Homo sapiens: one gene and its partner. The protein of the gene in region 1 purifies or fractionates together with the protein of each later gene. This does not show direct contact. Each region holds a gene or a part of one and is shown in the gene's direction. Other genes may lie near its edges.

Region 1 (3,822 bases):
TTCCCAGGGCTGCTGTAATAAGTACCACAAACTCACCGGCTTGAAACAACAGACATTTATGCTCTCAGGGGTGTGGAGGCTGGGAGTCTAGAATCAAGGCATCCAAGGGTGCTTATGTCCAGAGGTTCTGGGGAAGGGTCTCTTCATGCCTCTCTCTGGCAATCCTTGCAGCTCCTTGGTGTCACTCCTATCTCTGCCTCCATATTCACAGGACATTCTCTTCTCTGCTTGTGTCAGTGTCACCTTGACTAATTACATCTGCAAAGACCTTATTTCCAAATGTAGTAGCCTTGAGGTTCCAGGTAGACATGAATTTTGGGAGACACTGTTCAACCCACTACATGGAATTAACATATTATAAGAGTTGGAGGATCTGTACAATAGCTATCTCTTAATACGTATCTATTTAGTATCGACTAATTGCCAGCCACTGAACTAGGAGGGGAATGGAGAGGTGAACAAAATAGACATAATTCCTGCCCTCAAAATTGTATAATTTAAGAAGAGTGAAAAATCGCAAACATTGGAGACGTTACTGTTCTATTTTACTTTGGTACTTTGGATATAACATACAACTGTAGCTCCCTGAGATGAAGTCTTCTGTTCTCATCGTATGTGGACTAGGAATGAATGAAATATTCATTGTATATGAAATTAGAAATGCAGCGAGAAAGATGCATGCTTCGGTGTGTCCCCTCATTTCATGATATATATATATACTTTACTCTATAAGATTTTCTCTGGTCCTAGATTGATTGGGATGACTTTAATGTTTGTTGCATTCAGAATGACCCCAGAAAGCATTCAAGGCTGTGTGTCCAAATCAAGACAGAAGTAACTAGCCGGATAGTCATATAACTATTTTGTAGAGAATTCTTTCATATATTGGAAAATATAACACCAAGAACAGACTGTTCTCCCTTGTCTAACCAGTTTTATTTTATAGATATAATTTCCTGATTGAAGCTTTAGAATTGTTCTCAGCAAGACTGAAAATGAATTGCTCTTATTCTAGACACATTTTATTTTTACCTTCTGCAGACTTGGCTGCTTTTATAGTCATATGTCAGTCATGACTGACTGGCAAGAATACATTTCAAATCCCTAAACTGAGTTCCAAATATTAACAGACGATCCTCCCTTGAGTCCTTCCAATTTAAAGACCCATTGGACTTGATTCCAGCCACTGGTTAATTAGCACGAGAAAGGCTTTTCTGCTCAGCCATTCCTGACGTCAGTAGTAGGTCGCCAGCCCCTGGGGAGAATACAGATGAGCTTTTGGAGAAACCAGCTCTAAAATAGTCTCACAGCAAACACTTTAATCAGCTTTCCCTCCACTCGACCCAACTTTTCATGGTCTAAAGAATGGAATTCTGGAAGAAGAAATAGTAGTTCTGGTTGTATTCTCATCTCAGACTCACTGCTTCTAGTCCAAATTTCTTAACACTCATTAATGTCTGGAAAATAAAGACCTTTCTTTATCCATACCTGTCTGCCATCTTTAATTTGAGTTTATTTAGGATGACCACAAACCTAGCAGTTTGGATAAGTCGTCTTCTTGAACTGGAAAACTTGTCTTCCACTTTTATTTTTCTTTAATTGAAAAGTGAGTTCATGTATCTTAATTTAGACATTTCTACTAGAATTTCTCACTAAACTTTATTTCAGAACTCAGAGTAGATGATCCATTCAGAGGACATATAAAGTTTTGTTTAAGTCCTGCATCCTTTCTTCAGGAATTGAGGTATTATTCCCAATCATCTCTAGTAGCTTGACCAAATCCACATTCAGAAGAAAACATTTTCTTTGTTCTCATGTAATTCCATGGAAGACAATTTTAGTTTCAGTACTCATTTTTAAATTGCCCTGTGGTTTTTGTCATTGCTACCAAAAGATGTCTATGGCCACCTCAAAATGAATTTAGCTTATTACTGGAATCAAGAATTTCTTTGTGTGTATATATTTATTCATACTTCCTACAGTTTTCTTTTCACTCTTTAGTTAATGAACCATGCAATGCCTTAGAAACTTTTCTTTGGTTACACATTTCAACAAAATCTCTGTTCCAGTATAGTTTGATACTGGACTCTACTGCTTGGAAAAGAGTTGGGAGTCTTTCAGATTAAGGTCAATGTTCCGGACAGACCACATCTCCACAAATGGGGCAACTTGGCATTTTCTGAATGTTTTACTGAATTGACTGGCTATTTATCTGAGTTAACCACATATGTTTATCATGGTGGAGTGTGTGTGTGTGTTTTAATTTGGTCTCTGGCTTTTGTTTGGATTTTTCCATGAAACACCTTGCCTCGGTTATAAACCCAAATTGCCCTTGAATTTGTCGGTGGGACTCAATTTTAGAGCAATCTTGATTTAGTGAAAAGAAACATACAATGGAAGAACCCAACCTGGATAGTGAAGCTGTTTCCTAGGTAGCAGGCAGCCTTCACTGCAGCCCGGGAGTGGCAGGAGATGGTCCCATCGGGCTGGGACCCAGGGAATCTGAGTCTCTGCTCCCACTTTCCCCTTCCAGTACCACATGCTCATTGAAAGATGGAGTGGAATGCATTACCTAGTCTCCACTCCCCCCTTTTCTTGGTCTTCATAAAGAAGCAAAGCCTAAATAACACATGTTGACAAACCTTCTGCTCCAGAGCAGACAGTGGCCCAGCACATCAGCACAACCCTGGCCTCCTCACTGCCTGATATAACCGTTAACGTGACAGCTACAAGGGTTCTCATGTGGGAAAAACATCAAGTGCACCAGGATGTCCTTGGCCAGTTTGCAGTCAAAATATGTAAACTTCAGACTCCCAGAAATGGTTTGGATTCTTGAGCCATCTTTTCCTTACACCTGTGCTCCTGGGCAATTGTTTTATTTAATGAATTTTAGCTTTTTTTTTTTTTTTTGACTTGGCTATTCTCTAGAGAGAACACACAGAAGTCTACTGGGCTTGATTCTCTTCTTTCATCCTCCTCATTCATTTCTACTAAAAAATTATATATTCAGGAAGGTTCAATAATTCCCCTAGGAAACAGGAGGACTATTTAGTGCTAAATGAACATATGTGTTGGATATAAAGGGAAAATGAAAGGCACATGAACACTGGACATGCTTCGTTTTGCTTTGGAGAGCAGATATGGTCTTGTTCATGCAGACATATGTCCTCAATACCAAATCCCCTAGGAAAGGATGACATCAATTGCACAACTTCTAGGAAAGCTAGAGCAGTGACTTTTTAGAGTAAAAATGGTTAACTCCTCTGCCCTTAAAACATAAAAGAAAGAAAATATTTAATATAGAATGTTTGGCATTTCCCACTAGTTAGTAGGGAGGAAAGGAAAATTTCTTCATACAACCAGAGCAGTCCTAAAACAGTTCATTTTAAAATGGACGAACCAATTAGCATTGATGAATGTGGCTCCTTCTGGATGGTTTATTGAAGGAAGTAGTACAATGGGGGATGAAGAAGACAATGAGTGACATTTGCCTTAGTGGTAACACACAGAATAGATGTCCCCTTCCAAAGATCCTGGTCCTCAAAGCTTGCTCCACTCTAGAAACCAAGGTCAGCTCACGTGAGGAACTCCCCAGGTGTGCTGGGAACGGCTATTCCTTGTGTCACCACCGCAAGGTATGCACAGAAAGGACAGCTGGGCACCAGCTGTGGGAACGTGGTGGCTCAAAGGCATGACTGGAAACTACCACCTGGACAAAAAGCCAGTGTGCTTTGGCTCTCTAGGAGGTCATTGCCTGGAACAATGTTCCAATGTAGTGGCTGCTCATGCTCAACAAACGGTTCTTGAATTGTACTTCCTATA
Region 2 (3,822 bases), on another chromosome or scaffold:
GATGTGTGAAATGGATCATTCAATTCCTTTCAATATGACAGGCTTCATCCTGGGAGCAAGTTTTGATGGAGAAGAGTAAGAGAGATTAATAAGAATCATTATTCTTTACAGCCCTTGACGACAGGGATTGACGAAGCCCGGATAGTAAATATTTTAGGCTTTCGGAGCCTGAAGTTCTCTGTCACAAGTACTCAATTCTACCATTGTAACAAAAGCAGCCATAGATAATATGTAAGTGAATGGATGTGGCTGTGTTTCAGTAAGACTTTATTAGACTCTGAGATTTGAATGTCATATAATTTCCATGGGTCATGAAATATTTTTCTTCTTTTGCTTTTTTCTCAACCGTTTGAAAATGTAGGGCCGGGTGCAGTGCTTGCACCTGTAATCCCAACACTTTGGGATGCCAAGGCAGTAGGACAACTGGAGGCCAGGAGTTTGAGACCAGCCTGGGCAACATAGCAAGACCCTGTTTCAACAAAAAAAATTTTTTTTTGAAATTAGCAGAATGTAGTGGCCATGCCAGCCACATGCCTGCCATCCCAGCTCCTAGGATGAGGAGAAAGGATCCTTGAGCTCAGGAGTTCAAGCCTGCAGTGAGCTTGATGGTGCCACTGGACTCAATGCCTAGGTGACAGAGTGAGGCCCAGTATCTCAAAAAAAAAAAAAAAAAAGAAAAACCATTCTGAGATATAGGCCATACAGAAACAGGCCGGAATTTGCCTTACCCTGATTTACAATGTCTACGGCACCTTCATTTCCGTTCTGTCATCTTGTGAGATAGATACTATCATTTCCATGTTCTAGCGGAGGAAACTAAGGCCCAGGGAAGGAAGGGACTGGGCTGTGGGAAAGGGGAACCAGGAGGGAGAAGAGGGTAAAGGAAGGAGGAGCAGTGGGAGGATTTCTAGAGCCAAACTTGTCTCCTTTGAGGTGCTGGGGAGGGTGGATTTTAACAGCTCTGCCCTCACATTGGGTTTGAGGTGGCCAGGGAGACGGGTGAGTGAGCAAATGACTTGCATTCATTATGTCTTTGGTTTCTGGCCACCTTTGGGGCTAGGGGAATAAAAGCTTCATTCCTGAGTCAGTGAGAGCTTCAATGAAGCCCAGATGTCATTCGTGCTGAAAGAACCAGAACAACTCTCTGCTCCCTGCCAAGCATGAAGCGGTTGTGACCCCAGGAAACCACAGTGACTTTGACTCTGGTTCAGCTGACATGCTCGAGTCTAGCCACAAATTACCAGAAAGCAGCTGAGGAAAGTTTAGAATTTCTCCTGGCAGAGATGGTCCACGAGTCTGGCTCCAGGGTGAACCCCTTCTTCCCAGAGCAGCACGGGGCCCTTTGGAGGCTCGACTCCGCCAGCCCTCCCACTGCCTTCCCCCTGCCTTCCCCACCCTCACTTCGGTTGAGTTTTGCCTTCAAAATAGCAGACTCCAAGCCACCTGAAGGGCTGCAGAACAGCGTTGTTGACAGCTTCAAGTCGCCTTGTGGCTTCTCTGAGCTGCTGCTGTGCTTTGGAAACAAAATTCCAGGCTCTCCCTCTTTCTGTGTGTGGGAAACACCGGAGAGAGTTTGGGGAGGGAGACAAAAGGGCCCATTGAAAACCCAGACAGGCTTGAACTGTAAGTCACACCGGAGAGAGGGTTGCTGAGGGGACCCTAGAGGGAGGCAGTCCCGGAGCACAGCTTTGCTTCTTTGGCTACTTCCTTGCTTTGGAGGTTGCTTTCTTCTCAAGGTGGACCACCTGCTAGAACAGGGCAGCACTGCTGTTCACTGGCCAGCTTGGAGAGAAGACTGCCCATGTGATTCTAAGTCAGGCCCTTGTGACTGAACCACCATGAGGCTGGACTGTGGGGACTCGGGTATCCCAGAGGCAGAGCACACCAGGTCTGGGAGGGGGGCCACTCAGACGGCAACATTGTCATTCAATATCTATTGAACACCTACTGTCTTAATCCATGTTTGTTGCTACCACAGAATATGTGAGACTGGGTTATTTATAAACAATGGAAATGTATTTCTCAAAGTTCTGGAGGCTGGGACATCCAAGATCAAGGCACCAGCAGATTCAGTGTCTGTCTGGTGAGAGCCCAGAGTCTGCTTCCAAGGTGGCACCTTGTTGCTGCACCGTTACATGGCAGAAGAGCAAGAGAGAGTGAGAAGGGACCAAATTCGCCCTTTTATAAAAAAACCCATTCTTGAGAAGGACATTAGTCCATTCAAGAGGGCAGAACCCTGCTGTTAAAATTGGTAACTAAATTTCAACATGAGTTTTGAGGGGGACAAACATTCAAACCATAGCACCGCCTGTGTGTTAAACACCCACTTAGGTGCTGGGGCTGTAAAAAGTAAATCTAGGCGTGGCCCTGGCACAGGAGGGACTCCATTTCATAGAGAGAAAAGAACACAGACCCTTTTGTTTTAGGGTGCTTGCTGCCAACCGCTCTGGAGAGACAGGCTGAAGCAAAAACACCAAACATGGAGAAGTTATGACAGTTCCCCAAAGTAGTGACGAAGGCACATCTCAGGCTTGGGAAGTGTCCTCGGTGGGTGCCAGGCCTGCCTTTCCCAGCCTCTTCTCGGTGAAGAGATCTCTGGCTAAGTTCTTTACCTTCTCTGAGATTTGGAACATACTGCTGTTTCACCTACCAAAGCAACTTGCACCTTTTCTATTGTATTAAATATTTCAGTTTCTCCATTGTATGGAGGCTTCCAGCAATTAGTTTACAAGCCAACTTATTTACTATTCAGTAACTTTTTTTGATATTGAGATTGTTCCTAATTTTGATCATTTTAAACAAAGGTGTGAAAACAGGCCAAATCTTTTCATTCACTCATGACCATTTCACAAAGATAGATTCGTAGAATAAGTATTTTCAAATTCCCTTTCAGAAAAGTAGTACAATTTAACACTCACAAGCAGTGAATGTGAAGCCAATTCTCCATACCTTTGCCAGCAAGGGTGGCCCCAAGAACCACACACAGTACCCCAGCTAAAGGCAAAGGTAGCTTTTATCCTGGCCATAGCACACTGCTGATGGTCAACAAGACACCAAGTCCTGCTCACAGATGCTAAACAGAGCTTTCTTTTTTCTTTTCTTTTTTTTTTCTTTTTTTTTTTTTTTTTTGAGATGGAGTCTTGCTCTGTTGCCCAGGCTGGAGTGCAGTGGCTCGATCTTGGCTCACTGCAAGCTCCGCCTCCCGGGTTCACGCCATTCTCCTGCCTCAGCCTCCCGAGTAGCTGGGACTACAGGCGCCCGCCACCATGCCTGGGTAATTTTCTTTTTTTTTGTATTTTTAGTAGAGACGGGGTTTCACCATGTTAGCCAGGATGGTCTTGATCTCCTGACGTCGTGATCCGCCCACCTTGGCCTCCCAAAGTGCTGGGATTACAGGCGTGAGCCACCGCGCCCGGCCACAAGAACTTTCACAGTTTGGTGATTGAAACCCACATATAGGAATTCATATTCATTTCATTAAATTTAACCTTGGCTGTGTGTGGTGGGTCACTTGTAATCTCAGCACTTTGGGAGGCTGAGGCAGGAGAATCACTTGAACCCAGGAGTTCAGACCAGCCTGGGCAACAGAGGGAGACTCTGTTTCTACAGAAAAAAATTTTTATATCAGCCAGCCATAGGGCATGCCTGTGATCCCAGCTACTTGGGATGCTGAGGTGGGAGGATCGCTTGGGCCTGGGAGGTCGAGTCTGCAGTGAACTGTGTTCTTGCCACTGTACTGCAGCTTGGGTGACAGAGCAAGACCCCATCTCAAAAAATATATATATATATATCTTCTGATTCAGCTCATTTTCTGTGCCTTTT

Evidence for each region.
Region 2: the proteins of SLC22A3 (region 1) and ACTG2 purify together in Homo sapiens (affinity purification with mass spectrometry; one large-scale study listed by BioGRID and IntAct). This does not show direct contact.

What each region holds. Positions count from the first base shown.
Region 1 is NC_000006.12:160,438,714-160,442,535, forward strand, and holds part of SLC22A3 (solute carrier family 22 member 3), read left to right. Parts: intron 1-3,822.
Region 2 is NC_000002.12:73,895,692-73,899,513, forward strand, and holds part of ACTG2 (actin, gamma-enteric smooth muscle isoform 1 precursor), read left to right. Parts: intron 1-3,822. UniProt on the Homo sapiens protein: Actins are highly conserved proteins that are involved in various types of cell motility and are ubiquitously expressed in all eukaryotic cells.